6 linked regions of the Homo sapiens genome follow. The protein of the gene in region 5 purifies or fractionates together with the protein of the main gene of each other region. This does not show direct contact. Each region holds a gene or a part of one and is shown on either strand. Other genes may lie near its edges.

Region 1 (4,804 bases), on a different chromosome or scaffold from region 5:
AAGGCTTGGGGGTTGTTTCTGGTGTTCAAGTTCAGTCCTGCCACCCACGGAGCTCTCCAGCTACAGAACAGCCACCTCCTTGAGGGCTCGCACAGTACCCCAGGGAGAGCCGGGCTAAAGCCTCACACATGTCAGCTGGTTCTTGTTTCCGAAGATACGCATGCCCTCAGTGAGGCCTTGAGCATCCGGCCAGCCCAGGGGCTTCTGGGACTCTCGGTCCCAGGCCAGGCAGGAGAGCTTGTGCTGGGTGATCACCCTTTGAGGCCCCCCAGGCAGTAGTGTAGGGTATCTGCCTTAGGTGGCAGCAGGTTGAGAAATGGAGAGGAGGGGGCCTGGGAGCTTGGGCCCAGCCCAACGAGCCCAGAGAGTCTCAAGTGGCCTGGGGGTCCCAGGTCGTGTGTCCCCCCCACTGGCAGACCCCAGCCACCTCCCTGACTCCCTCGGAGGACACTGACCCTGGCCCCGGAGTTGGGACAAACTCCGTCCTCAGTTTCTTTATCTGTAAGTGCGATGGGTTGATCTCCCTCCATCCCCAGCCACAATCGAGGATTGGAATGTCCTCTGGCAAAGCCACACGGGCTTTCGAAATCCAAGGAGGGTCTGCGTGTGGACCGCACTGAGCTGGAGACCAGGCTGGCTTTGGAATTCTGAGGTTGCGGCGGGAGGGGGGCATACTCAGTGGGTTCAAGCAGGCGGGGGGAGGCCAGGCCTATCCCGGACCCCACCCAAGGCAGGGTGGAGACCTAGGGCTGCTGCTGGGCTAGTCACAGGGGCCCTTGGAGTCTGACATTTTCAAGCAGCCAATGATGGGCAGCAGTGGGAGGAACAGTGGGGGCTGCAGAGAGGGGAGGGGACGCAGGGGGCTGCAGAGAGGGGAGTGGGGGGCACAGGGCGCTGCAGGGAGGGGGTGCAGGGGGCTGCAGGGAGGGGAGCAGGGGGCACAGCAGGCTGCAGGGAGGGGGTGAAGGGAGTGCAGGGGGCTGCAGGGAGGGGAGCAGGGGGCAAAAGGGGTGCAGGGAGGGGAGCAGGGGGCTGCAGGGAGCTACAGGGAGGGGAGCAGAGGGAGCAGGGGGCTGCAGGGAGGGGAGCGGGGGGAGCAGGGGGACCAGGGGGCTGCAGGGAGGGGAGCGGGGGGAGCAGGGGGAAAGCGGGCTGCAGAGAGGGGAGCAGGGGGGCAGGGAGCTGCAGGGAGGGGAGCAGGGGGGCAGGGGGCTGCAGGGAGGGGAGCAGGGGGGCAGGGGGCTGCAGGGAGGGGAGCAGGGGGGCAGGGGGCTGCAGGGAGGGGAGCAGGGGGGGCAGGGGGCTGCAGGGAGGGGAGCAGGGGGGGCAGGGGGCTGCAGGGAGGGGAGCGGGGGGGCAGGGAGCTGCAGGGAGGGGAGCGGGGGGGCAGGGGGCTGCAGGGAGGGGAGCGGGGGGGCAGGGAGCTGCAGGGAGGGGAGTGGGGGGGCAGGGGGCTGCAGGGAGGGAGCAGGGAGGGCAGGGGGGCTGCAGGGAGGGGAGCGGGGGGGCAGGGAGCTGCAGGGAGGGGAGCGGGGGGGCAGGGGGCTGCAGGGAGGGGAGCAGGGGGGGCAGGGAGCTGCAGGGAGGGGAGCAGGGGGGCAGGGAGCTGCAGGGAGGGGAGCAGGGGGGGCAGGGGGCTGCAGGGAGGGGAGCAGGGGGGCAGGGAGCTGCAGGGAGGGGAGCGGGGGGGGCAGGGGGCTGCAGGGAGGGGAGCGGGGGGGCAGGGGGGCTGCAGGGAGGGGAGCAGGGGGGCAGGGAGCTGCAGGGAGGGAGCAGGGAGGGCAACCCTCCGGAAGCCAAAGGTAGAGGGTGCTGGTGGGATGTGCGTACGTAAAGAGCAAAATAAAACCAGTTTTGTGCAGGGTTCCTACCGTTCTGGTGAAAATAAAATAAATATTAATCTATAAGTTACAAAATGCGAATTGTGCAACTTTGCCCGGGGAACAGTGCAGCAATCACTTAAGCTCAGGAGTCTGAGACCAGCCGGGGCAACACAAGGAGACCTCGTCTCTACAGACATAAAGAAACTAGCCAGGCTGGTGTGTGCCTGCAGTCACAGTTACTTGGGAAGCTGAGGTGGGAAGGTTGTTGAGCCTCGGAGCTTGAGGCTGCACTCCCACCTGGGCAACATAGTGAGACCCTGTCTCAAAACTAAATGCATAAATAAATAATGTAGGCCAGACCTGGTGGTTTATGCCTGTGATCCCAGCACTTTGGGTGGCCAAGGCGGGAGGATCGCTTGAGGCCAGGAGTTTGAGACCAGCCTGGGAAACATAGGGAGACCCCCATCTCTACAAAAAATATAAAAATTAGCCAAGCGTGGTGGCACACACTTGTGGTCTTGGCTACATAGCAGACCGAGGCAGGAAGATGGCTTGAGTCCAGGAGGTTTAAGCTACAGTGAGCCGTGATCCTACCACTGCACTCCAGCCCGGGTGACAGAGCAAGACCTTGTCAAGATGGATAAACAAACTAATAAATTAATTAAAATAAAAATGTGAATTGTACAATTTTGTTGATTCTGTATGAGTTAAATCCTATTCTATTTGCATTTAAGCCAAGTATTACACAATATGAAGATAAATGGTAAATACATGCTAATAATTTAAAATTTTAATTTTTCTTGACTTAGAATGATGATTTTTTATTTTTATTTTTTTATATTTTTTGAGACTGAGTCTCGCTCTGTCGCCCAGGATGGAGTGCAGGGGCACAATCTCAGCTCACTGCAACCTCCGTCTCCCAGGTTCAAGTGATTCTTGTGCCTCAGCCTCCCGAGTAGCTGGGATTACAGGTGCATGCCACCACACACAGCTAATTTTTGTATTTTTAGTAGAGATGGGGTTTCACCATGTTGGCCAGGCTAGTCTCAAACTCCTGACCTCAAATGATCTGCCCGTCTTGGCCTCCCACAGCGCTGGGATTACAGGTGTGAGCCACTGCGCCCGGCCTCCCAAAGTGCTGGGATTACAGGTGTGAGCCACCGTGCCCAACCTCCCAAAGTGCTGGGATTACAGGTGTGAGCCGCCGCGCCCGGCCTCCCAAAGTGCTGGGATTACAGGTGTGAGCCGCCGCGCCCGGCCTCCCAAAGTGCTGGGATTACAGGTGTGAGCCGCCGCGCCCGGCCGCCTTCCAGCATTTCTGGCACAGACCGGCACAGGTGTGGGCTCCTGTCCTTTGCATGTTGTTGGCTTTCTGTTGACCAGATGGCCTGGAGACCTCCTGGCGTGGATGCTTCCACCTCATTCTCTGTAACATGTGCGCAAGCCTCAGAGCTCATGTTAGCTGAGCAATTCTTCCATGCAGGCACCGTGCTGAGGGAGCTCCTGTGGCCTCGTGAGGCAGGAGCGCTTTTCCCCTCACCTCTCAGGGCCCTGGGCCTTGGTGCCTGCCTACCTCTCCCACCTCCACCCAGCTCAGCCGTGAGTCTTCATGCAGTGTCCTCAGGGCATCACATGAGAGCCCCAAGCACCCCATCTCTCTGCCACTCCCTCTCCCTTGTTCTAGCTCCACCCTGTCTTGATTCCTGGCAATTCTAATAAGAGAGAATTGTCCCCAACCCTGGCCAAGCAATTCCCTGACATGTAATGACCTGTGCTACCCTCACCTTGCTCGGGTGGGGCCAGACCTTCACTGCAGTCCCATCACCCCACCCCTCCCTTCCCCTTCTGCTCCAGGGCCTGCCCAGGACCTCCAGCCTCCCGCCCCATTCTCTGCCAGACTCCATCATCCCCTCTGGAGCCGTCACGCCGCTCGGTAAAACCTGCCCGCTTCCTACCCGCTTCCTGGCCGCTCTCTGCCTGCTTCCCGGCCGCTTCCTGCCCACTTCCTGCCTGCTTCCTGGCCACTTCCTGTCCGCTTCCTGGCCACTTCCTGGCCGCTTTCTGCCTGCTTCCTGCCCACTTCCTGCCTGCTTCCTGGCCGCTTCCTGGTCGCTCTCTGCCTGCTTCCCAGCCACTTCCTGCCAGCGTGCGTTTGCACTGCCCTTCGCGGAGTGTGCTGAGGGGAGAAGGCCCAGCCGTCCCAATCTGCGCTACTTTGAATTCCTGATCACAAACTTCAAGGAACCTCTTTAAGCCACCCGGGAATCCTGCTGCAGGTCCCAGTGCCAGAACCAGAAGCATCTGTGCCATCTGGGAACATTCTGGTGGAGCAATCGCCCTGTCCTCGAGGTCGGCCATACACGCTGGGTCTTCACCACCCCGGGGATGCAGATGCCTCCTGGCGACCCCCTCCTCCATCCAAGGACCCCTCCCGGCACAGCCCCGAGCACACCCGCTGTCTCCCCTCCTTTCCGCCCGTCTGTCCGATCCTCTCACAGCTGGCTGGGCCATACTGCTCTGTGAAACTGTGCCCGGTCAGCCCCGGAGTGGGTGACCCAGGACCCGCTGGCTGTGTCCTTCCAGGGCACAGGTCCCAGCCTCTCCTGTTTCGTCGACACTGGCTACCTGTGTGGGCTTGTCTGTTTCTGGGCTCTGAGCCCTATCCCCACAGCACTGACTCCCCCACCCACCTGAACCCCCAGCCCAGCCCCCGAAGCCCCACGGACCCAGCCTCCTGCTGCGCACCCCAGCTGGAGTTCAGGGAGCATTTTAAATTCACTTTTTGTGTTTTTTTTTTGAGATGAAGTCTTGCTCTGTCACCCAGGCTGGAGTGCAGTGGTGTGATCTCAGCTCACTGAAACCTCTGCCTCCCAGGTTCAAGTAATTCTCCTGCCTGGGGACACGACACGTAGGGGACGCCTGAGCCCTGCGCCTTTGGGCCTCAGTATCTGTGAAATGGGCCTGTGAAAGGGGTGGACACT
Region 2 (4,804 bases), on a different chromosome or scaffold from region 5:
TAACCCAATAGAATGTTTTGACATGAAGACAGACAACAACTCATAGAAGGATCCTCCCACCTCAGCCTCCCAAGTAGCTGGGAATACAGCTGTGTAGCACCCGTGCCTGGCTAATTCTTGTAGAGATGAGGTTTCACCATGTTGCCCAGGCTGGTCTCAAACTCCTGAGCTCAAGCAATCTGCCTGCCTCAGCCTCCCAAAGTGCTGGGATTACAGGTGTGAGCCACCACATTTGGCCCTGGAAAGCACTCTTCACTGGTTTACCACCTCCCAATATTTTCCCCTCTTCCTCAAAATATAAACATTCTGTGGTCAAATATATCAAGATAATATTTAAATAAAAAGTATAGCATGCAGTATATACTAAAGCAGTATCTTTACTATGTATGGTTGTATATACCATCAGACCTAGGGAAATCTATAGGATTTTTTTGGTTTAATTCATTATAATCAAGATAAACAGCACTGTTACCAGGGTCCATTTATCAAATCATGGACAACGTATTCTTCACTAGCATTTGACATCATAATGGCATTATGGGACATAATGGGATTCTGACTGAACAAAGCTAGAAAATTGCTGATCATCAAAATGCAACTGGAGACAGACATAATCTTTATTACATGCTAAGCAATGTACCAACTCCTAGATGATTGTGGCTTTGTTTCATTCTCCCAAAACTATTAAGCAAATATTTTGCCCACTCCGTAGATGAGGAAATGGAGGTTCTTACTGCTAGAAAGTGGGAGAGCCAAAAATTAACCTGGATCAGAGAAGATTCTGGGAAGACAGTAGAGTAGGAAGCACTAGGAATCTGTCTCCCCACCTAGGCAACTGCACTGGCAGAATCTGTCTGATGTAATTATCTTGGAAATCTGGAGTCTACCAAAGGCTTGCAACTTCCAGGAGAAGGCTTGGACTGTCAATTACAGTTAATTTTAGTCTATTTCAGATCTTAGCACAGTTAACAGCTACCCATCCCCCATTCCCGGCCCCATGGCAGGCAGCTGTGCACTTATTTCTGGAGCAGTGTGCACACAGCTTACAAGAACCAGGTGGGCAAAAAGAACCCTGTCCTCCAATTACTGGGGATCTGTGCTCTGATTACTCATTGCTGCTTCTGATCACAGAAGAGCAGAGAAAGAGGTAGGTAGTAACTCTTACATTTTTCCCCATTGTTACAAACTGGTTCTCCTCTGGCTGAAGTGACTGCTAGGGGATTAAAAGGGCCAGTCCTCTTTTTTCTTCTTCCCTCATTTTTCTTTTTTCCCTTCTTCGGAGCCAGATATTAAAGACTTGTATATTCAAAACCAACCACATATACTGGGGAAATCAGAAAGCTACTATGCTTAGTCAGGAAAAAGTACAGGCTTAGAAAAGGTCTGAGACCTTAGGTTTACATCTCAGGCTGGTCCTCAGCACAGAGACAGTCTACAACCATCAAAAAAACAAACAAACAAATTAGCTAGGTGTGCTGGCATGCACCTGTAGTTCCAGATACTCAGGAGGCTGAGGCAGGAGGATCACTTGAGCCCAGGAGTTAGAGGCTGCAATAAGTCATGATTATTCCACTGCACTCCAGCCTGGGTGACAGAGTGAGATCCTGTCTCAAAAATAAAAAGAAACAAAAACAACCCACAGCAAATCCCGAAGAAAGGGGAAAATCTTATTTTCAGAGTTACCACATTATTAGATTCAAATATCCAATTTTCAACAAAAAAAATAAAAAAACTTACACAGAAACAGGAAAGGATGGTCCATTCCAAGGAGAAAAAAATGTATCAACAGAAATTGTACCTGAAAAAGACCTGATAGCAAAGCTACTAGACAAAGACTTTGAAACAACTCTCTTAAGGATGCTTGAAAAACTAAAGAAAGACACGGAGAAAGTCAAGAAAACAATGTATGAACAAAATGGAAATATAAATAAGAGACAGAAAACCTAACAAGAACCAAAAAAAATTTGGAACTAAAAAGTACAATCACTAAAATAAAAAATTCACTAGATGGATTCGAGAGCAGATTTGAGCAGGCAGAAGAAAAAATCAGCAAACTTGAAGACAGGACAATGGAAAGTATTGAGTCTGAGGTACAGAAAAAAAAAGGAGTAAAGAAAAGTAAACAGACAATAAAGGGCCTGTGGGGCCATCAAGCAGACTTGCATGCACATTGTGGGAGTTCCAGAAGGAGAAAAGAGAAAGAGGCAGAGAGAATACTTAAAAAAAAGAAAAAAAGCCTGCAAACTCCCCAAAAGTCATAAGAGACATGAATATACAACATCCCAGAAGCTCAACAAACTCGAAGTAGGATGAACTCAGAGACCCACAATGAGACACATTATAATTAAACTGTCAAAAGACAAAGACAGAGAATCTTGAGATTCTCAAAAAAATTATCAGAACACTTCTCATCAGAAACATTGAGGCTGGAAGTACTTTAGTACTTTAAAGTACTTCTTTTAAAATACTAAAAGAAATGTCAACTAAGAATCCTATATCTGGCAAAACTGTCCTTCAAAAATGAGGCAGTAATTAAGACATTCTCAGATAAAAGCTAAGGGAGTTTGTTACCACCAGACCTGTCTTGCAAGAAATGCTAAAGGGAGTCCTGTAGGTTGAAATGAAAGGGCGCCACACAGGAACTTGAAGCCATATGAATAAATAAAGATCTTAATAAAGGCAAACACATGGACAGTTAAAATTCCACATTTTGTTTTTTACATAATTTAAGAGATTAATGCATTTTAAAAATTATTAGTTTATGTGTTTGAACACACAATGTATAAAGATGTAATTTTGTAACATCAACAGCTGAAAGGAGTGGGGATGGAGACTGAAAGGAGCAGTTTCTGCATGATATTGAAGTTAAGCTGATATAAATCCAAATGAAAGTGTTATAACTTTAGAATATTAAGTGTAACACAACAATGTGAATGTACTTACTACCACTGAACTGTACACTTAAAAATGATTAAGATACAGCTGGGCACAGTGGCTCAAGCCTGTAATCCCAGCACTTTGGGAGGCCAAGGCAGGTGGATCACTTGGGGCCAGGAGTTTGAGACCAGCCTGCCCAACATAGCGAAACCCTGTCTCTAGTTTAAAAAAATAAAATAAAATAACCTGGTGTGGTGGCAGGTGCCTGTAATCCTAGCTACTTGGGTAGCTGAGGCAGAAGAGAATCTCTTGAACCCGGGATGCAGAGGTTGCAGTGAGCTGAGATTGAGTCACTCCACTCCAGCCTGCGTGACAGAGCGAGACTCTGTCTCAAAAACAAACGAAACAAAAGATGCTAAATTTTATGTTATGTGTATTTTACCGCAATAAATTGGAAAAAATCTGATTACTTCTACTGCACTAGGCTGTAAGGCCTGGGAAAGGCAGGAAAGAAAGATACTGAGAAGGGGGCAACACAGAAATGTTGCCATTGGTGGACTACAATAAAGCAGATATAGAAATGGTGTTACACACTTAACACAGGGAGAGCACACAGCATTACCTGGCTTCTACTCCAGGCCTCGTGGGTGGCTTTCCTGGTGGTGGCCGAGGAAAGAACTGAGACGAAGTTGAGCTATTGACCTGATCTGTGTTGACCCATGAAACTGGCCTTGGAATTTTGCTCTTTCTAGACTGGGAGATGATGGGTGACAGAAAGCTATCTTCAGCTGACCTACTCAGGTGAGAATCTACTGTCAGTCTTGAAAAGGGAGTGAGCACTTCCTCCTCACAAAAGGGAGCAGGAACAGTAGCTAGTTTCTCCTCTAGCAATTTATCAGAGGCACTTGAGAGGTCGCCAAGGAAGGACTTGAATTGTCTTTTTTCCACCAGAAGCTTGACTAGGTCTGGCTGATAGGCTTTCTTTTGGAGGAGCTTTTCTTTTGCAGAAACTGGAGAGGATGATTCCAAAGTTGAGTCTATCTCTTGTGCTAAAACAGGGATTCGGCTGTGTCTAGTTACAAAGGATGACCTAACCATATCCTTCCGGGTTGGGGCACCATGTTCATTCTCTGAAACACAATGAAATAGTTCTCCATTTCTAGGGGTGATTTTCTCTCTCTTGCCCTCTTGGTGCAAAAAAGTAGAGAGGTCTCCTTGATGACCTGGCAAGTCTTCACTCATGATGTCATCATCCTTAGATATCTTATTTTTTTGCATTTCTGCCACTTGGCCTATCTGACCTTCAACATGTGGGTCAATGTCTCTGGAAGAAATTTCTGAAGTTCCAACTGTCAGAAGCTTCATTATCTCATTATTTTTGTCTTGATTTGGCACCACACTAAAAGTCTGTGTTTTTGTCACATCAAGAGGTTCAGTAGTAGCTGAGTGATCCTTTTCCACAATTACCAAATCTCCTGGGAGAGAGGAGATCTCAATACAATGCTGCCCTCTACTTAACTTCTCATCTTCATTATCTGACTCTAAAAGGATGCTTTTCTCTTCAGTTTCCCCAGGGAGATTTTCAAATTCTCTCACAACCAGTCTATTATGATCAGGAAGTTCTTTTGGTCCCAGGTCTTGAGATTTGTTACTTTCTCTAATGTTGGGTAACATGTCATGACCAATGTGATCTATCTGAAGCCCCAAATCTGTTCTGCTTCCTCCACTAGGAGGTTCACCCTCTGTCACAACCAAGCCAGAGAAGTTTTCCCTTGGAGAGTAAAGTTCCACAGTGGGCTCCATGGGCTGAAGATCTTTCTTCTCTGGCTGCTGACCACAGTGAAAGCTTCCTGAAGTTGACTGTGTAGATGCCACAGAAGGTCTAGGAATTGTAATCTGGAGAAGGGGAAGAAAAAATTAAAATGCA
Region 3 (4,804 bases), on a different chromosome or scaffold from region 5:
GGGAGAGAAAAAAGGAAAATAGGAAGAAACATGAATCTATCTATAGAAAAGTAGGCTGGGTGTGGTAGCTCATGCCTGTAATCCCAGCACTTTAGGAGGCCAAGGTGGGAGGATTGCTTGACCCCAGGAGTTCAAGACCAGCCTGGGCAACATAGGGAGAACTGGTCTTTAAAAGAGAAAGTAAAAAGGAGGGGAAAAAATGAGTAGGACATGGTGAAGGACCACAAGTCTAATAGTACTATTTGTTTTATTGGGGCCACCCCATGCCCTGGGTTGGTTGTCCACACTGTGGTCACAGCCTTAAACAGTTCTGGAATCATAGCAGTCTCTCCATTGGTTGGCTACTTGTCTTCCCTCTTTATGTTGGTTTTTTTTTTTTTTTTAAGCCGTGGAGGGTTGGGAGAGAAATAGGCATTTTATTTGATGCTGATTCCCTGTAGCTGCCTCTTCCTTTCCTTGTGATTTTTGCCAGGCAGGTGACTGGCCTTTCGTTTGTGTGGTTCATCTGCAGTGCCCTACCCGCTTCCTTTGCTCTTGCCAAGGCCAGTGGAGAGCTCCTAGCCAGATCCTGCTGTCATCCCTTCTAGAAACCGACTAGACTGTCTCCCTGATCCTGACTTCCTAAGCCCTCATGCCCCGCCTCCTCCTCCACCTTTCTTTGAAAGTTGTTTTTTCACTTCTCCTTTGTGCAAGTGGTTTGTTTGAATGTATAAACTTTTTTTGCTGTATATTTTTTTTAGTCCTCTTAATTTCCCCCCCGTTGATGGTTTTACCATTACAATGAAAATGGAAACAGCTGACATTTAGCCAGCCTTGCCTATAAACGCGGCTCTAAGTGATACAGATTAACCACCAAGGCAGCTCCTAGAGAGGGAGAGAGTTATTTCCAGTGTAGAGATGAGGAAACTAAAGCACGGAGACATTGAGTAGCTTCCGCGAGTTGCCTAGCAGTGTAGGCAGAGATGGGATTTGAATCCAGGCTGTCTGAGCGTAGAACTGGTCTTGTAAACTGTCTATAAATTACTCAACCAAGCGCATCTTCCATGTTTTTCTTCTATAAATAGGGATGAGGTCAATGTCTTTGCACATATCGATGCATCCATCCAGGTATTTTTCTCAAATAGAACAAATTCCTCAAAATAGAATTACTGAGTCAGGGAATATGCCTTTTAATTTAATTTTTTTTGATATTGCCAAATTGTCCTTCATAAAATCTGTCGACAGTACATGAGTGTGCTCAGTACCCCAAAATCCTGGCCGGGTCTACATATTTTTGTACATTTTGCCCCAAAGAAAGGCATCTCATTTTGGTGTTCATGTGTTTTGTTACTCGTGAGCATGAATGCCTTGTTGCTGCTGTTGGTTGTTCTATGCCTGCGTTCATGTTTGCATCCTTTTTCCCGGTGTGCTCACGTCTCTTCCAGGTCTGTAGCGTGCTTTGTAAGTGAGGGATGAGCTTTCTGTCCTTGTAGAGATTTGTCCTTTTCTCCCACCCACCTCCCGGGAGAAAAGCTGTGGGTCACTGCTTTCACTGCACAGCACAGAGTAGAGACCCTGGCTTCCCCCAGCAGGGTGGGGGCTGGGGCTTAGGCTGAGCGGAAAAGGACAGGAGGAGGATGGACTGCTGGTCCCCTTACTTTCCCCTAGTCACCTTCCCTCCTTCCAGGAAGCAAGGGCTGGGAGCAGCTAAGAGAAGCTAGGATTTCTTAGGAGAGCTTGACGCCTATTGGTGAGGAGGCATTGGAGGGGGAACATGCCCCTTACTCATGAACTGAACAGATATTTCCCGCCAGTCCATCGTTGGTTTTTTTAACCTCACGCTAGTCTTTTTTGCGGTGGAGAAGTTTTTCTTGTTCATGGCCCTATCTGTTGAGCTTTCCCAAAATAGCTTCTAGTAAGTGTTGTGTACTCCAAGCAATCTGTCCTCGTTATTTTTCTATTTTAACTGGTGCTTACTCTGAATTTCTACTTTTAGTCTTTTGTGTTAGAGTTCCACTTTGAACCCAACGACTACTTTACCAACTCAGTCCTGACAAAAACCTACAAGATGAAATCAGAACCAGATAAGGCTGATCCCTTTTCCTTTGAAGGTCCTGAGATTGTGGACTGTGACGGGTAAGAAAATGTCATTCTACCTTGTTTTTCTGAAACAAAATCAAAAGATAATTTTGTAACTTGATGGGTAAGATAGAAGTAAGGAATAAAGTACAGTCTTGAGTCTGCTTAAAAGCCTAAAAGCCTGGTAGATGTATATTTCAATAGTCTTTCAGTTTGGGAATGCTCATAGTGCAGAACTTGGAGATGGCGGCTGAACCTGGGAAATGAGTCACGTGGTTGCACATGCAAGCCTTTGGGATAGTGCCCTGTTTCTTCATTTTAATGAAAGTAGTGGATTCTCTAGACATCGTGAATTGAAGTTCTTAAAATTGAATCCATGGATTACCCTCAGCAAATAAATACTTATTGAATGAATGAGTCTGAGTCCAGGGCTATATTGATCAGCTGATTGCTTTGGAAATAGGTGGGGGCAGCATAGCTGTTGTTTGACTCACTGATTTCAGTCTTTATAAATCACTAAAGAGAGAATTTGGTTTAGAATTAATTTCTCCAGGTTGGGTTGACTGAGAAATGGTTTTAGTCTTGACTTGAAACAATTACGTTTATTTACCAGAAGTAAATAGTAATTGTTAATTCAGGACTTTATTAAAATCCTGCTAGAGTAATTTAGAAAGATGATTTTCCAGGGCCAGGACATCATGTGAGAAAAAGGCCTGGCCTTACCAAGCATGTTCTTAAGCGGGCAGTATTGAGATCTGCCAGGTGTTGCCTGGGTCTGTGGTGATTGTGTGTTAGAGAGAGCGTGCTGTGCTCAGCCCTCGCCAGCATCCCTGGGGCTGGAGTGGTCTGCACTGGCCATCAGTATTCCCGGTGGCCACCTCTTTCCTTTTTTCAGCTTGTCGTGCTCAGTTGGCTGCTTTGAACAGCAGCAACTCCTCCTTCCTTGGGAAACCGCGGACAAGTTCTTGTGCATCATGCAGACTTGACGGGGCTTTGCCACAGAATATACATTTCAGAGTCCTGATGAAATGTCTTGGGAAAATAATACCATTGTTCCAGAAGTCTGAAGTTCCAGTGGTCACACCCAAGTTGAAAGAGGACCAGGCTGTTTCTCTTTTTGCCAACCTCCAGATGAACTTCATGGGCCATTGTATTTGGTTTGCAGATTGGTTTTATTTCGTTTTCCAGGTTTGGCATAGAGCTGTGGTTTGCTTCCTGCATGCATTTGTAATGGATTTTTCTCATGGATTGTGTGTTCCTGACAGCTGTCTTGTCCTGGTAGGTGTACTATTGACTGGAAGAAAGGAAAGAATGTTACTGTCAAAACCATCAAGAAAAAGCAGAAGCATAAGGGTCGAGGCACTGTTAGAACAATTACGAAACAAGTACCCAATGAGTCCTTTTTCAACTTCTTCAATCCATTGAAAGGCAAGTCTGTTGGTTGTTAATATTCATTATGTTCTTATATAAAATAATTTTGGTCACCTGATAGATTCCTAACACCCAGAGACTTTAGTCCTCTTTTTTCAGGCAAGTGTGGTCAGTAGGGGCACATTGCTGTGTCCCAGGCTGTTCTGTTGGTGCGCTGGCAAGTTTATCGCGGGGGGCAGAGGTAGCTAGGACAGTAAGAGTAGGATTGTCATCTTCTGCAGGAAAGGGAAGAGCTTTACTCTGCTTGGCTGTAGCCCAGGCAAAAACTTGCAGTTCTGTTTTAAGAAAACTGAATCGAGTATTTGCACCTGGGCTGCTTCCTCACTTGGACACCTGGAGCACCCTTCTCCACCAGCTGGCATTTCTGCCCCGCTGTTGTGTCTGGTTCGCACCCCCCGGGGACCACTCCCAGCCTCGGAGAGCTGCTGGGTTTGCTCTGCAGGTACCCGTTACTGCTGTACGCTGGTTCTAGTTGTGCTGCTTTTGGATCATCTGCTTAGTCCCCCTTTTCTTGTAATTTTTTATGCATAATTTGATAGAATTTTTTGGAATTTATATATTGTAAGAAACACAAGTAGTTGGGACTTTCATTTTTGAAAAACATCGGCAGAATCACAGCTTGGAAGCTGCTTCTTTTTGTTTATTTATTTATTTTTTAAATTTTCCTAAGTGGTAAAATAAAGATGAGACCTTTGAGCTAGTAAAGGTTGACCAATTGATTTTAAGAGTAAATTTCTTGGGATTTTTCATATAATTTCCTAATCGCGAGAAAATGTGAAGGTCAAGCAACTTGTCAGTGTTAAAATATCCATATTCTCTTTAGTTTCCATGAACTAAAACATAATTTGAAGTGAAGAGATGCCAGCCCCTGCTGCAGATAATCAGTGAGTGTTTGTTTGTATGTGGGGCCACAGGGCGGATCTCTTCTCCAGTCTGAGTGATTGATTTTTTGATTTTGTCTCTGAGCTTAGCACCCTTATTTATCAAGCTGCCCTTCAGAGTTCAGTCCATTATTTTAATTGTGGTGCCTATTTTCTGCAATTAGACTTTGAACCTAGAAGATGCAAATACATACGGTTTGGGGAATGAGAGCAGTCATAAATTTAGATATTACATTTCCTTTTTTTGGAAGATTCCTTTTAGACACTTGGGTTGGGCATACTGGAGATTGTCTGTGAATTCAGCGTGAAGAAGGGAGGCTTTAATTTCTGGAATCACTTTGTGTAGGAAGTTCTCTTAAAACTGATTTAAAAATAATTTTTAGGATAAAAATGGAGTTGATAATGGACTCAAGGGAATTTTTAAGTGTTTTTTT
Region 4 (4,804 bases), on a different chromosome or scaffold from region 5:
TCAAGATATCAAGACCATCCTGGCCAACATGGTAAAACCCCGTCTCTACTAAAAATACAAAAATTAGCTGGGCATGGTGGCGTGAGCCTGTAGTCCCAGCTACTCAGGAGGCTGAGGCAGCCCGGCAACAGAGACTCTGTCTCCAAAAAAAAAAAAAAAAAAAAAAAATTTGCCTGGGGTCGTGGTGGGCACCTGTAGTCCCAGCTATTTGGGAGGCTGAGGCAGGAGAATCGCTTGAATCCAGGAGGTGGAGGTTGCAGTGAGCTGAGAGCGAGACTCTGTCTCAAAAAAAATTAAAAAAAAAAAAGAAAGAAAACCTGTAAAAATCTGAATTAGAATTACACTTACACTTCATTCTTTAGGCATAATCTTCCAGAATCCATTTTAAACATCTTACCTGTGCTTTATTTGATGTTTTTTCCCATCACAATTAGACACATAGTTGACTGCCTCAAATCTAATGTGTGTCCAATAGAAGCTAAAGATTTGCTGCTTTGACACACTGATTTCCTTCTTGCTTCTATTGTGTTGAGTCTGTTTATGAGACTTGTTCCTCTCTAGTATCGATGCTTTCATTATCCTCTTTTTCATTCATTTTTAGAAAAATAAATGTAAAATACAATACAATCCAAATAACAGCCCTCTGCCTACAGATGAACATGTGAATGCAGCTGAAATTGTACTGTTGGCTGGCAGGTATGCCACCATGTGACAGCTCAAAGTATTCCCTTGCTTGTCAGCTCATGCTGAATTTGAAAGGGAGTTGAGGTTGGCAATGTATAAAATGTGGCTTTACAGGACATAAGAACATAGGTGACCTTTCCAGTCTTGGGCCATTTTGTCTCTCCCTCAACCTCTTCCCCCACCTCTGAATGCTGGATTCTGTTCCCAGGGAGTTCTATGGTTGGGATCTAATGCTGCAGGTACCCTGAGGTCATAAGCACATGCAGGCGGCAGGCAGACACTCACGTGCGCACGCTCTGCTGAATGACCCGGATCCAGGTGCTCCGGTCATCCCGGGATGCTGTGTGCACCTCGTACATCTCAGGTGGGGCTGCGCTGATCAGAAACATCCCTTTCTCCTGGTTGGCAATGTCTCGTACGATTAGATTCTGCAGCGATACCACTGAAGGCTTGTCCTGCCAGTCAGGGGAAAGGAAGGATTAAGCCTGGGAATCCTGTCCCTTGGCATATTTAGGCCTTCAATCCTTCTGGACGAGGACTGAAAGGACTGAAGAGTCATCTTACAATACCAGTTAAGAGCCAGGCACTGGTGCCAGCCAGAAGGGACTTAGAAATGTGTGCAACCCTTGACAAATTATTTAACTGACTTGAAGCTTTACTTTCATCATCTATAAAATGAGGACGAAAATAATCTTTTCCCACAGGTGTAAAAGTGCCTGTGCACAGTAACAGTACCTGTGAGCTGCTCTTATTTTTTATTATTACGGTAATAGTAACAATTATAGCTGTTTGACTCTGGGGGACTCCAGAGCTCTCGTGGGCTTGGGCAGGAAAGCAAGAAGAGACTAAAACACTTGTCTGTGCTGAGAAAGGTGAAGAATGAATGTCTCACCAGGGTAGGAAAGATGTACTTCTGGTCCTTTTCCTGGAGAAACACCAGTACATCTGTCATCAGCAGCACTAGCACATCTGGAAGGGGATGAAGGTGGGAGAACAGTCAGCACTAGACGGTCTGAGCAGCTGCTTCCCTCTTTCCCAAGGACCAGGCTTATCCCATCAGGTTAGAGCTCCCAGTTTCCCTCTTCCTGGCCTCTCTTCCCTCTGGCTGCTTGCACTTTTTCAGACCTCTCACACCTCACCCATTCTATTTTTTTTTTTTTTTTTTGATACAGAGTTTTCATCTTGTTGTTCAGGCTGGAGTGCAATGGTGCAATCTTGGCTCACTGCAACCTCCGCCTCCCGGGTTCAAGCGATTCTCCTACCTCAGCCTCCCAAGGAGCTGGGACTACTACAGGCGTGTGCCACCATGCCCGGCTAATTTTGTATTTTTAGTAGAGACGGGGTTTCACCATGTTGGTCAGGCTGGTCTCAAACTCCTGACCTCAGGTTTATCCACCAGTTTCGGCCTCCCAAAGTGCTGGGATTACAGATATGAGCCACCGCGCCTGGTCACACATTCTTACAGCTTAAAAACAGTGTGGGTGGGGGGTGGGGGGCGGGCAGGGTGCAGAAAGATTCATGTGCTATCAGACAAAACAGCGTTGTGGGCTAGCAGGAACCACAGGGATCACTCAGTGTCTACAGAAAACCCTTTCTACCTGACTGATTCAGGTTTCTTAACCTAGGGCCTACAGACCCCCTGGGATGTCAGGCTTCAGTGGCTCTGTAAACCTTCTGAAGGTGTGTAAATAGTTTTACATATTAACATAACTCGTGTATTTTTTTGGGTGACAGGGTCCAAGATTTTTGTGAGATTCATAAGGTTCCCCAGAGCAAGAGGGACCATACTTTTATTTTTTATTTATTTTTAATTTAATTTGATTCTATTATTATTTTTTTGAGACGGAGTCTCACTCTGTCGCCTAGGCTGGAGTGCAGTGGTGCCATCTTGGCTCACTGCAACTTCTGTCTCCCAGGAAAAAGCGATTCTCCTGCCTCAGCCTCCTGAGCAGCTGGGATTAAGGAGCACGCCACAACACCTGGCTAATTTTTTGCATTTTTGTAGAGACGGGGTTTCACCACGTTGGCCAGGCTGGTCTCTAACTCCTGACCTCAAGTAATCTGCCTGCCTTGGCCTGCCGAAGTGCTGGGATTACAGGCATCAGCCACTGCGCCTGGCCTATTTTTTATTTTTTGGGACCAAGTATCGCTCTGTCGCCCTGGCTGGAGGGCAGTGGTGTGATCTCTGCTCACTGTGACCTCTGCCTCCTGAGTTCAAGCGATTCTCATGCCTCAGCCTCCCAAGTAGCTGTGGCTACAGGTGAATGCTGCCATGCCTGGCTAATTTTTGTATTTTTAGTAGAGATGGGGTTTCACCATCTTGGCCAGGCTGGTCTCGAATTCCGGACCTCAGGCGATCTGCCTGCCTGATTCAGCCTCCCAAAGTGCTGAGATTATAGGGATGAGCCACCGTGCCCAGCCTGGACCACATTTTTTAGCCTTTAAATTCCATTTCTAATATCTAACTAAGGAAGACCTTTACGGCTATCTGACCTAAATTCTCCCTGTCCTGGCATATTCCCACTTCTAATTTTGAGCTTGGTAGGGAGGGAGAAAGTTTCCTTCCTCTCGCAGAGGACTGAAAGACCATCCCTCACCCACCCATCTCCTTCAACCCCAGCAGGCCCCTGCTTCAATTTCTTTCTCTGCTTCACACTCCAAGCTCTCAGATCCTATGGGGTCAGCACTCCAAGACTGAGGGAGGAAACAAAGATCAATTCCATAAAACTTGGATGTCACAATCAAGAAAACAGAGGGCGAGGCATAGTGGCTCACATTTACAATCCCAGCACTTTGGGAGGCTGAGGCAGGAGAATCACTTGAGGCCAGGAGTCTGAGCAAGACTAGCCTAGGCAACATAGCAAGATCTTATCTCTACAAAAAATTTAAAAATGTGCTGGGTGTGGTGGTGCAGGTCTGTAGTCCCAGTTACTCAGGAGTCTAAGGCAGAAGGATCACTTGAGCCCAGGAGTTTGAGTTACAGTGAGCTATGACTGCACCACTGCACCCCAGCCTGAGCAGCAAAGCGAGACCCTGTTTCTAAAAAAAAAAAAAAAGAGAGAGAAAACATACACTCCTCCTTTGCCCTTGGGGATTTTACTAAACTGTGGGCACACAGAAGGGGAGGGCTTTTGCTAAATGCTTCAGAAATAACACTCTCCAGCCTTGCTATTTTTAATCCCCCATGGTTTATATTCTTAGCTGCTGCGTGGGAGAGATGGGAAGGAGAGAAAGGGATAAAGGAAAGAGGCTGGTGAAGACTGACAATATCCAAACCCAGGGAGCAGGGATTTCATGACACAGGTACAGAGGCTCAGGCAGGCTTTGGCCTCAGGTATCACAGTTTCCTATTGTCCCTCACATCTCATCCCCAAAGCCAAGGCCTGCTATTCTCTTGCTTTGATTTAGGTGAGAAAGACTTTGCCAGTGCAGACAAATTCTGGAAAGAGAGCCTGGGAAAGTGTGCCCTGGCCCCTGATCTGCTCCCTCTGCCCTGCTGTCTCTTCTCCTCCCTGCCTGTCCTTCACCGGCTCAGTCCCCTCCTCTGGGCCTCCTCTGGCTGCGCTCCCCAAAGCTCTTGCTTACTCCCATCCCTGGTAGCTGGGATTCCAGCTGGGGGAATCAACTGATCCTGTCCTCCAGTCTGAGAGCTTCTTTGTCTTCCTCAGTAAAACTAGTAGCTCTCTAGGCATGCAAGGACCAAAGAAATTATAAAATACTGATAGGGAAGGCCCTGTATGGTCCATAAAGTTAACTGCAGAATTCAGGCTTTTCTGCCACAGAGATCCTATTTTTCTCTCCCACTGAGTCTCACTGTTGTATGGGCTGCATAAAGGGAGGTTGATTCTTTTTTTTTTTTTTTTTTGAGATGGAGTCTTGCTGTGTCACCCAGGCTAGAGTGCAGTGGTGCAATCTGGGCTCACTGCAAGCTCCGCCTCCTGGGTTCACGCCATTCTCCTGCCTCAGCCTCCTGAGTAGCTGGGACTATAGGCGCCCACCACCACGCCCGGCGAATTTTTTGTATTTTCAGTAGAGACAGGGTTTCACTGTGTTAGCCAGGATGGTCTCAATCTCCTGACCTCGTGATCCGCCCGCCTCGGCCTCCCTAAGTGCTGGGATT
Region 5 (4,804 bases):
CACCCGAACTGTCTTGCATCCCATCCCACAGAGTTCTAGGGCCCCCGACTTCAATTCCACCTGAGCCCCTAGGCCCTGTATCCATGGACTCTGAGTGTGAGGAGTCACTTGCTGCCAGCCCAATGGCAGCTAAGCCCGACAACCCATCAGGAAAGGTCTGTGTCAGGGAAGTAGCACCAGATGGCCCACTACAAGAAAGCTCCACAAGACTGTCCCTGACTTCAGACCCCGAGGAGGGGGACCCACTGGCCTTAGGGCCTGAAAGCCCAGGAGAGCCTCAGCCTCCACAGCTCAAGAAAGATGATGTCACTAGCTCCACCGGTCCCCACAAGGAGCTGTCAAGCACAGAGGCAGGTTCCACAGTTGCAGGAGCAGCCCTCAGACCCAGCCATCATTCCCAGCGTTCCAGGTATGTTCCTCTGAGCACTGCTTCAGGGACAGGGTAGTTATCTGTGGTGAGTGTCTCTGTTTTTTCCAGGGCTGGCAACTCATCCCTCAGAGACTAATTTACTCATGTCTTCATTCATTAGTTGATGTATTAATTCAACAACACCTACCATGTACAAGGCTCTGTGGCGGGCCCTACAGTAGTGTGGCGGGCCCTGTGGTAGTGTGGCGGGCCCTGCGGTAGTGTGGCGGGCACTGTGGTAGTGTGGTGGGCCCTGTGATAGTGTGGTAGGCAAGGCAGGTTTGGTTCTTGAGTTTAAGGAGTGACAGTCAAGTGGAGAAAACAAATACATACTTACATATCATAAAGTATGATAAGTCCTTTTAAAAAAGAAACAGGGTGCTATTCTAAAGGAGTTGTTCCACTTTAGATAGGGTGGCTAGGGAAGGATTCTGAGAAGGTCACATTGAAAAGATGACTCTGGCTGTAGGTTCTGGAGGGGGCCAACCGCACTAGGAGGCCACTGTAGGGTGTGGGAAGAGATGGTGGCAGCGGAGGTGGGAGGAATTCCTGAGCAGTCACCAACGCTGTTGAATTCTTACCCAAGGGCCGGTGACCCTTGTAGGTGGTGGGTACTGTGACCTGGAGCAGGAACAATAACATTTTCTATGACTTGATTTTCCTTCAGTCTCTCTGGGGATGAAGAGGATGAACTGTTTAAAGGGGCAACTCTGAAAGCTCTGAGGCCCAAAGCACAGCCTGAGGAGGAGGATGAAGACGAGGTGGTAAGGAAATCCCAGGCACTGTCAAGTCCTCACACACCCACCTGGGGGCTCTTCCCTACTGGCTCTGAGAAGAGAAATGGAGCCTGTTGGTGGCCCACTCCCTGGACTCTGTGTGCAGGGCCCTGTGGGAGCAGGCTTGGGGCTGGGCTGGGAGGGCGCAGCTCTGTAAGCAGAGTAGGGGACGGTCACATACCACTTTACTTTTGAGAAAGAATCATAGTCTCTGTCCATGCAGGAATTAGTCCCCTCAGAGGAAGAAAGCTGAGCTGCTTAGCCCCACATTGGAATGCTGAAGCCTTAGTTTTCCCCAAATCTGCTAGGATATTATTTATATTTTAGAATTGGAAAGGACTTTGAAGATCATCTTGCCTGGCATCCTTATTCATAGATAAAAAACCTGAGGCTCAAAATGATGATTTACCCAAAGCCACAGAGTGAGTTAATGGCAAAGCTAGGACTAATCCCCAGGCTCCTGTAAAGACCTCCTGTTCCTGAGCATTTTCCACTTACTCAGCCTGCTTTCCTGCTGCCTTGTTTTGTCATCACAATATCCCTGGGCACAAAATGGGTTCAGTATTAATAGCATAGCTTCACAGAACAAGAGTGAAGGCCAGGAGAGGAGGGCACTGATAGGGACTGAATTAGAACCCCGGTTCTCGCCTCTGCTGCTCCCCGCTGTGCTAGGTTACAACCGTTCTGGCTGTCCCTAGGCCATTTTGACTGCTCTGAAATGCATATGGAGAACACAGGTGGGCTTCAGGCTCAGTCCATCTAAAGGACAGAAATATGAGGGTGAATGGGGCAAATTTTGTCCCCTCATGTATCAGCCAGAGTGGATTTTGCCTTTTGCCAAAACCTTGAGCAGAGAGCTGTGATGGATCTATGCTCCAGCTTGCATGTATCGGAGCCCTTCCCTCTTGCCTGTGTTCCTTTGGGGAATGTACCAGTTCCTTCCATGAGTCTTTCTTCTCAAGAGTTAAATTTTCATTTGAGAATCCAGAATAGCAATTCTGCCCTTAAAAAAAGGAAAAAAGGGGGAAAAACCAAATTGAGTATATTCTAAGTGACTGCCCTAAATATAGTTGGAAGCTTTTAATTAGTGAGCATATTATTGGTATTAGTACCAATACTGTCCAGTTAACATGTAGTTCTTGGGTACTCTGAAAACGACTTCACAGATGTTGTCATTTAATCTACTAATCCAATGAGGTAGGTACTTTTATCCCATTTTATATATCAGAGGGCTGAGGCTCAGGAAGATTAAATAATTTAACTAAGCTTATATAGCTAGTAAATGTAGAGCCAGAACTTTAGTCAGGACAAAACAGAAGCTGTGAGCCACACTTGAAAATCCTATACTGTCAGAGTTAGAGATCACGTCATTGATGTCCAGAGAGAAGTACGAGGTCTGGCTAATTGGTAGTGACGTGGGATTAGCCCAGAGACTTGTATACACATCACGCTGCCTTCCCTTTTGCCTGGCCCTGTGAAGATGGATTCTGGTTGGCAGTTGCTCACCAGAGCAGAGAATGCCTTAGTAGAGACTATTCAGTTCGTGCCTGTCTGTAGCATCAATCCCTGCTAGCCGGGTAGGTCCTGTTCCCTTGCCAAGCCAGAGGAGAAAGGCCAGGAGCTCAAGCTGTGAAAAGAGAGGGTCTCTCATGGCCCATCAGTCCCTTTCACCCCCACTACCTTAGCTGGAAGGAGCGAGGGTGGTGCCAGTCAGGCTAGAGGTGTGGGAGGCTGTGGCCCCGTGTTCTTCACCTCTTAGGATTCTCCAGTTGGCCAAGCCTCCAAATTCAACTCTTTCAAATGATGGGATCACACCCAGAGCCAGTCAGGCCACCTTAGGCCACGACGACAGTATTTTTCCATATGTGATTGTCTTCTTCCCAACCTCCCTTCTTCCCACTTCCTCTCGCTCTCTCAGGGCTGCTTTGCTTCTGTTTCTTCCTACTGCTCCAGTGTTTCCTCTTTGACCCTTCTTTCTCCACACAAAATGTGTAAGTTACTGCATGAGAGGAAAATCTGTCAAATCAGTACATGTGCTTCATAAATAAATGATGAGATTAGCCAAACAAAGTTCATCTTTTGTCTCTGTTGAAAGACTGCCTCCCTTCTCTGCCTGCTGGTCTCAGCTTTATCTGGAAGCCTAGGTTTGCTGGCCTCAGAGTTGGCCCTGTCAGTACAACCTCCTTTCTGACCCAGAGCTGGGAACAGAAGTTGGATTGCTTCCACTCACAGGTGGAAAGTCCAGTGGTGCAGGCACAAGTGAGGACTGACTGCTCTTTCCTGTTTTATCAGAGCATGAAGGGACGCCCGCCCCCAACGCCCCTTTTTGGAGATGATGATGATGACGATGACATTGACTGGCTGGGATGAAGACCCAGGAAACTGGTGCAAAGGTTTCTCTGCAACCCTTCCCTAAGCATGATTTTGCACAGCCAACCCTGGGTCTAGGCGAACCACAGGGTGAGGTCAAGGTGAGCATTCTGGGAACAATATTTGGGCTCAGAGGGTGGGTTGGCCACCTTCTGAGCCCCACCCCCGCCAGACCTGGTGAAGAGGATCATAACCCTGTCTTCAAGAACACTGGGATTTCAGCAGCAAGTTGGAAGAAGGACTGGTAGGTTCCCCTCCAAGCCAGTCACCTGTAAGAGTCCTGTCCTCTGCCAGACTTTTTAATCTCTTCATTAACTCTCAGACTGACCTGGGAGCCCTCCTCTACCTGAATCCAGTGCTCAACTGTGCCCCGGCAACAAGACCTGGGCTGAGGTCTCCCTGGTAGAACTAAGGGAGATTACACCATCTAAATCCCAGTGCAGTCAACAGCCTGGCCTATAGTCCTGGGACATGTATCTTCTTCTTTGCCTTAAATCTGATACAAGAGGTCAATGACTTTGAAAATAAAACTAAAATAAATGTCTATAATGAAACTTGACCCAAGCCCTTGGAGAAAAATTGAGTTTGGTTCCAAGGGCTGTCTGTGCTCTTTTGGGAATCTAAGGGTAGGAGTCTTACAGATCTGGGTCAGTTAATGTGCACAAAACGTTGTGGCATATTTACTCCCTTTGATACCTAACCCTGGAACTTTTAGGCTTTCAAAGAAAGTCACCACTGTAGTCCTAGCTCATCCCTGGGGCATGATGGTTCTGTGAGGACCAGTCCAGTCATCCTCTTGCTCCTGCAGGCTTAGTCCTGCAGTCTAGGAAGCCATGCAAAGAAGGTGAGAGGGTCCCTTCTTTCCATTGTTCATGGCACCTGAGGGATTCTTCACTTTGAGAGCAGCTTCCATTCCCTTAGAACTCATGGGACCAGGACTTATGCAGAGAACAGTAGTGAGAAAATACTTGTGGTCATTTTCTTGATTCCAGGATCTTCCAAAGATTATGCAATCAGTCTTTAAAAAAACAGAATAATTAATTTTAATAAAAAATGTTTCTTGATTTTAAATGTTTTAAAAGATAGGACCCAAAATTCCACTTCATCTGGCCTGGCATCATCCTTGCAGGCTTTGGATATGTCTCCCGTGTGCGGACCTGGGAGGCAGTGAGAACTAATTATTTCTTTGTTGCTTAACAAAAGGCGGTGCTGTTTGGCACTTTCACAGACTGGCTTATCTCCAGCAACC
Region 6 (4,804 bases), on a different chromosome or scaffold from region 5:
CGTCCAGGCCCCCAGCCCCCTCCTCCCTCAGACCCAGGCGTCCAGGACCCCAGCCCCCTCCTCCCTCAGACCCAGGCGTCCAGGCCCCCCAGCCCCCTCCTCCCTCAGACCCAGGCGTCCAGGCCCCCCAGCCCCCTCCTCCCTCAGACCCAGGCGTCTAGGCCCCCCAGCCCCCTCCTCCCTCAGACCCAGGCGTCCAGGCCCCCCAGCCTCCTCCTCCCTCAGACCCAGGAGTCCAGGCCCTCAGCCCCCTCCTCCCTCAAACCCAGGAGGCCGCACGCCTCCCCTGCCCCCCTCACCTCTTTTCTTCGTCGGTAGAGATGGTATGTCTGTAGGAGGAAGAGAGATGTTTGTGACATATTTGCTAGGCCTGGGGTCCCCATCCACCCAGGATACATCTCAGGGTTGCTGTCCTGGGATAGGCAGGGGGAAGAGAGACAGAGAGGGGACACTGTGGAAGGGATTGGGAAGGACTGTCATAAGAGGGAGGGAGGTCTCTCATCCAGGAGGATGGGATCCAAGTGCCAGATCATGGACAAGACCCAGAAATGACAAGGGAACCCCAAAGCTGGAAAGGGAAGACTCGGATTCAAGGTGAGTTAAAACACCAGGGTAGAGGAAGACCCCCAGTGCCAAGAAATGAACTCTGACCCTGAAGAGGGAACCTGCAAACGGGATGGAACATGCCAGAGGTAGCACGGGTGCCCTTGTGCTGGGGAGGGGCGACGCTCCCACCAGGGCTGGCCTACTCACTGCATCTCCTCCAGGTGCATGAGCAGCCGCTCCGCCACGTGCCGCTCCCGGGCCTCGTAGCTGGCTCGGTCCCGCCCAACCCAAGCCTCCAGCTGGGCCAGCTCCTGCTCCCAGGGCGTCATGCCCATGAGCCGCTTGGAACGGAAGTCCTCCAGCTGCCGGCCCACGGCTACCTGCTGGCTTTGCACCACCTCCTGCACGAACCGCCGCTGGACATCCTCGGAGATGAGGTCAGCCCTAGTGCGGTCTGCAGGGACACACATGGGGGCTAGGGTCCAGCTCCCTGGTGGCTTGGACCACGGTCCCCACCCACCCTTGGACTCCAACAGCCACACGTCCTGAGGCCGCTGCCAAGAAGGAATGAATGAATCTCGGCTGTCCGAGCAGAGCATGGGAGTGCGGCCTCCCTCCCCTTGGCCTCCTGGGAGGTGTGGTCCCCGCTAGACACCTCTCCCTCATCCCATCCTTCTCCTTACCAAGTTCAAAGGCGACGTTGGGAGGGACCGGCACCCGGAGAACCTGCTCAAGAGAGAGAATGGGGTGAAGAGGAGGACTTGGTGTGCTGAGATGCAGGCCGGGAGGACTGCCAGGAACCCTGGTCTAAGCGAGGGTGCTGGGGAAGGCCTGGGTCAGCAGCTGCCCTCAGGGCAGAGGCTGGGGACCGCATGGTGACTCTGCAGGCCCAAACAGGGATTGCAGGGTTGGGGCAGCTTGAAGGTCTCTCACCGCTGTCTTCTCCAGGAAGCTGTGGTAGAAGTCCAGGAAGGCCTTCTTGGCCTCCTTGGGGCCCAGTGAGCCCAGCATGTCGGCATGCAGACAGCAAAGCTGGGGGAGACACACAGCATGACTCTCCGCTCCCTCACCCTGCCTCAAACCACACTCTCCCTTTGAAAAGGGCCTTCCTCACCTCCTGGCCATCCTATGGCTGTGGGACTCAACTGCCACTTCCTCTGGGAAGCACTCCCTGACCTCCACCCCTAAAGCCAGGCCCTGGGTTCCCCTGCAGGCTCCCTGGGGCTGCCATGAGCATTTTCTAATTTTCCATCCTGTGCTATGGTCCTTTGTGGTTCTTCATCATGGTCTCCTCCCGGCAATAATGACAACAACTACTACTACTGTCTATACTGACGGCTTAGTGTATACCAGACACGGCTCTACACCCTCTACATGCATTAACGTGTTCAATCATAGGGACCGTCATTATCCCCATTTTACAGATGAGAAAACGGAGCTCAAGAAGTTTAGTCAAGCTTAGTCGCACAACTAGGCTAGGCACAGTGGCTCACACCTGTAATCCCAGCACTTTGGGAGGCCAAGGCAGGTGGATCACATGAGGTCAGGAATTTGTGACCGGCCAGGCCAACATGGCGAAACCCTGTCTCTACTAAAAATAAAAAAATTAGTCGGGTGTGGTGGTGGGCACCTGTGATCCCAGCTACTCGGGAGGCTGAGGCAGGGAGAACTGCTTGAACCCAGGAGATGGAGGTTGCAGTGAGTGGAGATTGTGCCACTGCACTCCAGCCTGGGTGACACAGAGCGAGACTGTTTCATAAATAAATAAATAAATAAAACCCAAAATCACATAGCTACTAAGTGGCAAAGTTAGGATTCGAATCCAGGCAGCCTGTCTCTACTACACTCCACTGCCTGGAAAGACTGTGAGCAGCTTAAGGGTTTGTGTGTGTTGAGGGGTGTTGTAGGTTGATCCATCTGTGTCCCAGATGGTGGTGCCTTGTGCATACTGAGGGCTTGGAAAGAACAGGTGGACAAGTGGGGCTCACTCTGTCATTCGTCAAGCATTTCCTGAGTGCCCGCCCCTGTTCTGGGTGACAGTGGGGACTCCAACCTGTCCTGGCTCCTGGGGGCTCTCATCTGGGAAATGAACTCACTCCAATGGGAGTGGGACTTTTTCTCCTTTTTCTTTTTTGAGATGGAGTCTCGCTCTGTCACCCAGGCTGGAGTGCAGTGGCGTGATCTCGGCTCACTGCAACCTCCTCCTGGGTTCAAGCGATTCTCCTGCCTCAGCCTCTGGAGTAGCTTGGATTACAGGTGCCTACCACCAGGCCTGGCTAATTTTTTTTTTTTTTTTCCGCCTAGGCTGGAGTGCAATGGTGCAATCTCGGCTCATTGCAACCACCACCTCCCAGGTTCAAGTGAGTCTCCTGCCTCAGCCTCCCGAGTAGCTGGAATTACAGGTGTGTACCACTGTGCCTGGCTAATTTTTCTATTTTAGTAGAGATGGGATTTCACCATGTTGGCCAGGCTGGTCTTGAACTCCTGACGTCGGGTGATCCACCTGCCTCAGCCTCCCAAAGTGCTGGGATTATATGCGTGAGTCACTGCGCCTGGCCAATTTTCATATTTTTAGTAGAGACGGGGTTTTACCATGTTGGCCACGCTGGTCTCGAACTCTTGATCTCAAGTGATCTACCCACCTCAGCCTCCAAAGTTCTGGGATTATAGGTGTGAGCCACCATGCCCGGCCCCACTTTTTTTTTTTTTTCAAGACAGGGTTTCACTCTTGTCGCCCAGGCTGGAGTGCAGTGGTGCAATCACTGCAGCCTCAACCTCCCAGGCTCAAGCTATCCTCCTGCCTCAGCCTCCCAAAGCGTTGGGACTACAGTCATGAACCACCAGGCCCGGTCCTCCTTCTCCACTTTAAACAGTTTTAACACATCTATATCCACTCTTCACACCCCCCAAATATAGCAAAATTCTAAGACAGGCCAACAGGAAGCTGCCCAGGGGACCACAGCTATCTCTGATCGGCTCCCCACAAGCTGATGAGGTGAGGGAGCTATGCGAGAATAAACCTCAAAATGCCCAGAGGCCGCCGGGGTCACCTCAGGCAAGTCCCTGACCCTCTCTAGGCCTCGGTTTCCACATCTGTAAAAGAACATGGTAGTCAGCACGATCCCTGGGCTGATGTCCACAATCTGGTGTTCTAGAAACCCCAAGGCTTGAATAGGGGACTCCCTTGCTCAGAGGGCCAGAGTCTCCGTGCATGTGGTTGTCGGGGGAACCACTCTTCTGGAAAGAGAATGTAGACAGGGGAAAGACTGCAATTTCCTAATTTTCTGCATATCTGATGGTTTGGCGTCCGGATGACCAGCCTCTGGTCTTGCAGCTGACATGTTCTTCTTTCTGCATGCCTCGGGCACTTCTCCCCACTCTATCGGTTTCCTTGTTTTCTGGAGGGGTCCACTATGCATGTCCACATGGTGCAGTGCCCTGGCTGTCCCCAGGCTGTCCTCCTATCCTGTGCTGGGCTGGACGGGGTCTTCTTGGGATGAGACCCTTGTCTACAGATCCCCTGCCAGCCAGCACTGTGGCCTCTCCCTTTCTAAATCACCTGCTGGGTTTTCTAGACTCTGCGGGTGTTTCTGGATGGCACGGTTGTCCATCCACATCTCCCAGGTATCTTCTGCCTCATCCGGAGGCTTCTGGATCCACAATTGTGTGGTCTGCCTTGTGAGCTGTGTGTGGTGGTTTTCTTGTTTCCAGATCAGGGCCTGCTGTGCTCCCTAGACCTGGGATGGCTAACAGCTTCTTTTTCCCAACCATCAACCGTGAATGACTGCGTGCTGGCATCTGCCAAAAAGGCTTTGGAGAGAAGAATTTGGTCCCCTAGAGTTCACGGAAAGGTGCTGCCACAGGCTGATGGGGGCGCTGCCACAGGCACAGAGTGGGATGGGATGTGGTTTCTGCCAGGCTGCTGGACTCTCTGTGGCTCCGCGGGGTCCTGACGTGTGTACCCTGCCCGCTGCGCACTGAGATCTACCCTGGGCACTTGTAAGCCTGTTGAGGTCACGTGGCATGCTTTCTGGCTCTTGTCTAAAGCATTCTCTCTTTCTAGATCTGGCTCTCTGTGTTCTAGATCTGCTTTTCCAGACCCTCCAGGCACTAGCTCGCTGGTTTAATTCGCTAAAAGCTGTGCCTGTCCCAGCCCCACCCCTCCCTGTGCCCACCCAGCCCTGCCCTCACCAGGGGTCCTGGCTCAAACTGCAGGGCCACGTGCTGCAGGAGGGCCATGAGGTGGGCTGGGCGCCGC

Evidence for each region.
Region 1: the proteins of FKBP15 (region 5) and DPEP1 purify together in Homo sapiens (co-immunoprecipitation; one large-scale study listed by IntAct). This does not show direct contact.
Region 2: the proteins of FKBP15 (region 5) and TTBK2 purify together in Homo sapiens (affinity purification with mass spectrometry, with the first as the bait; one study listed by BioGRID). This does not show direct contact.
Region 3: the proteins of FKBP15 (region 5) and NAP1L4 fractionate together in Homo sapiens (co-fractionation; one large-scale study listed by BioGRID). This does not show direct contact.
Region 4: the proteins of FKBP15 (region 5) and ARHGEF2 fractionate together in Homo sapiens (co-fractionation; one large-scale study listed by BioGRID). This does not show direct contact.
Region 6: the proteins of FKBP15 (region 5) and ARHGEF1 fractionate together in Homo sapiens (co-fractionation; one large-scale study listed by BioGRID). This does not show direct contact.

Annotation. Positions count from the first base shown.
Region 1 is NC_000016.10:89,615,889-89,620,692, reverse strand, and holds part of DPEP1 (dipeptidase 1 isoform a precursor), read right to left. Parts: intron 3,809-4,804; exon of another isoform or gene 3,779-3,808; intron 650-3,778; exon of another isoform or gene 456-649; intron 97-455; exon of another isoform or gene 1-96. UniProt on the Homo sapiens protein: Hydrolyzes a wide range of dipeptides including the conversion of leukotriene D4 to leukotriene E4. Hydrolyzes cystinyl-bis-glycine (cys-bis-gly) formed during glutathione degradation.
Region 2 is NC_000015.10:42,748,475-42,753,278, forward strand, and holds part of TTBK2 (tau-tubulin kinase 2), read right to left. Parts: intron 4,774-4,804; coding exon 3,500-4,773; intron 1-3,499.
Region 3 is NC_000011.10:2,957,081-2,961,884, reverse strand, and holds part of NAP1L4 (nucleosome assembly protein 1-like 4), read left to right. Parts: intron 1-1,975; coding exon 1,976-2,115; intron 2,116-3,340; coding exon 3,341-3,486; intron 3,487-4,804. UniProt on the Homo sapiens protein: Acts as a histone chaperone in nucleosome assembly.
Region 4 is NC_000001.11:155,956,744-155,961,547, forward strand, and holds part of ARHGEF2 (rho guanine nucleotide exchange factor 2), read right to left. Parts: intron 1,654-4,804; coding exon 1,577-1,653; intron 1,140-1,576; coding exon 970-1,139; intron 1-969. UniProt on the Homo sapiens protein: Activates Rho-GTPases by promoting the exchange of GDP for GTP.
Region 5 is NC_000009.12:113,164,829-113,169,632, reverse strand, and holds part of FKBP15 (FK506-binding protein 15), read left to right. Parts: coding exon 1-409; intron 410-1,076; coding exon 1,077-1,173; intron 1,174-3,477; coding exon 3,478-3,555; 3' UTR 3,556-4,804. UniProt on the Homo sapiens protein: May be involved in the cytoskeletal organization of neuronal growth cones. Seems to be inactive as a PPIase. Involved in the transport of early endosomes at the level of transition between microfilament-based and microtubule-based movement.
Region 6 is NC_000019.10:41,888,799-41,893,602, reverse strand, and holds part of ARHGEF1 (rho guanine nucleotide exchange factor 1), read right to left. Parts: coding exon 4,738-4,804; intron 1,579-4,737; coding exon 1,480-1,578; intron 1,273-1,479; coding exon 1,230-1,272; intron 1,001-1,229; coding exon 754-1,000; intron 330-753; coding exon 300-329; intron 1-299. UniProt on the Homo sapiens protein: Seems to play a role in the regulation of RhoA GTPase by guanine nucleotide-binding alpha-12 (GNA12) and alpha-13 (GNA13) subunits. Acts as a GTPase-activating protein (GAP) for GNA12 and GNA13, and as guanine nucleotide exchange factor (GEF) for RhoA GTPase.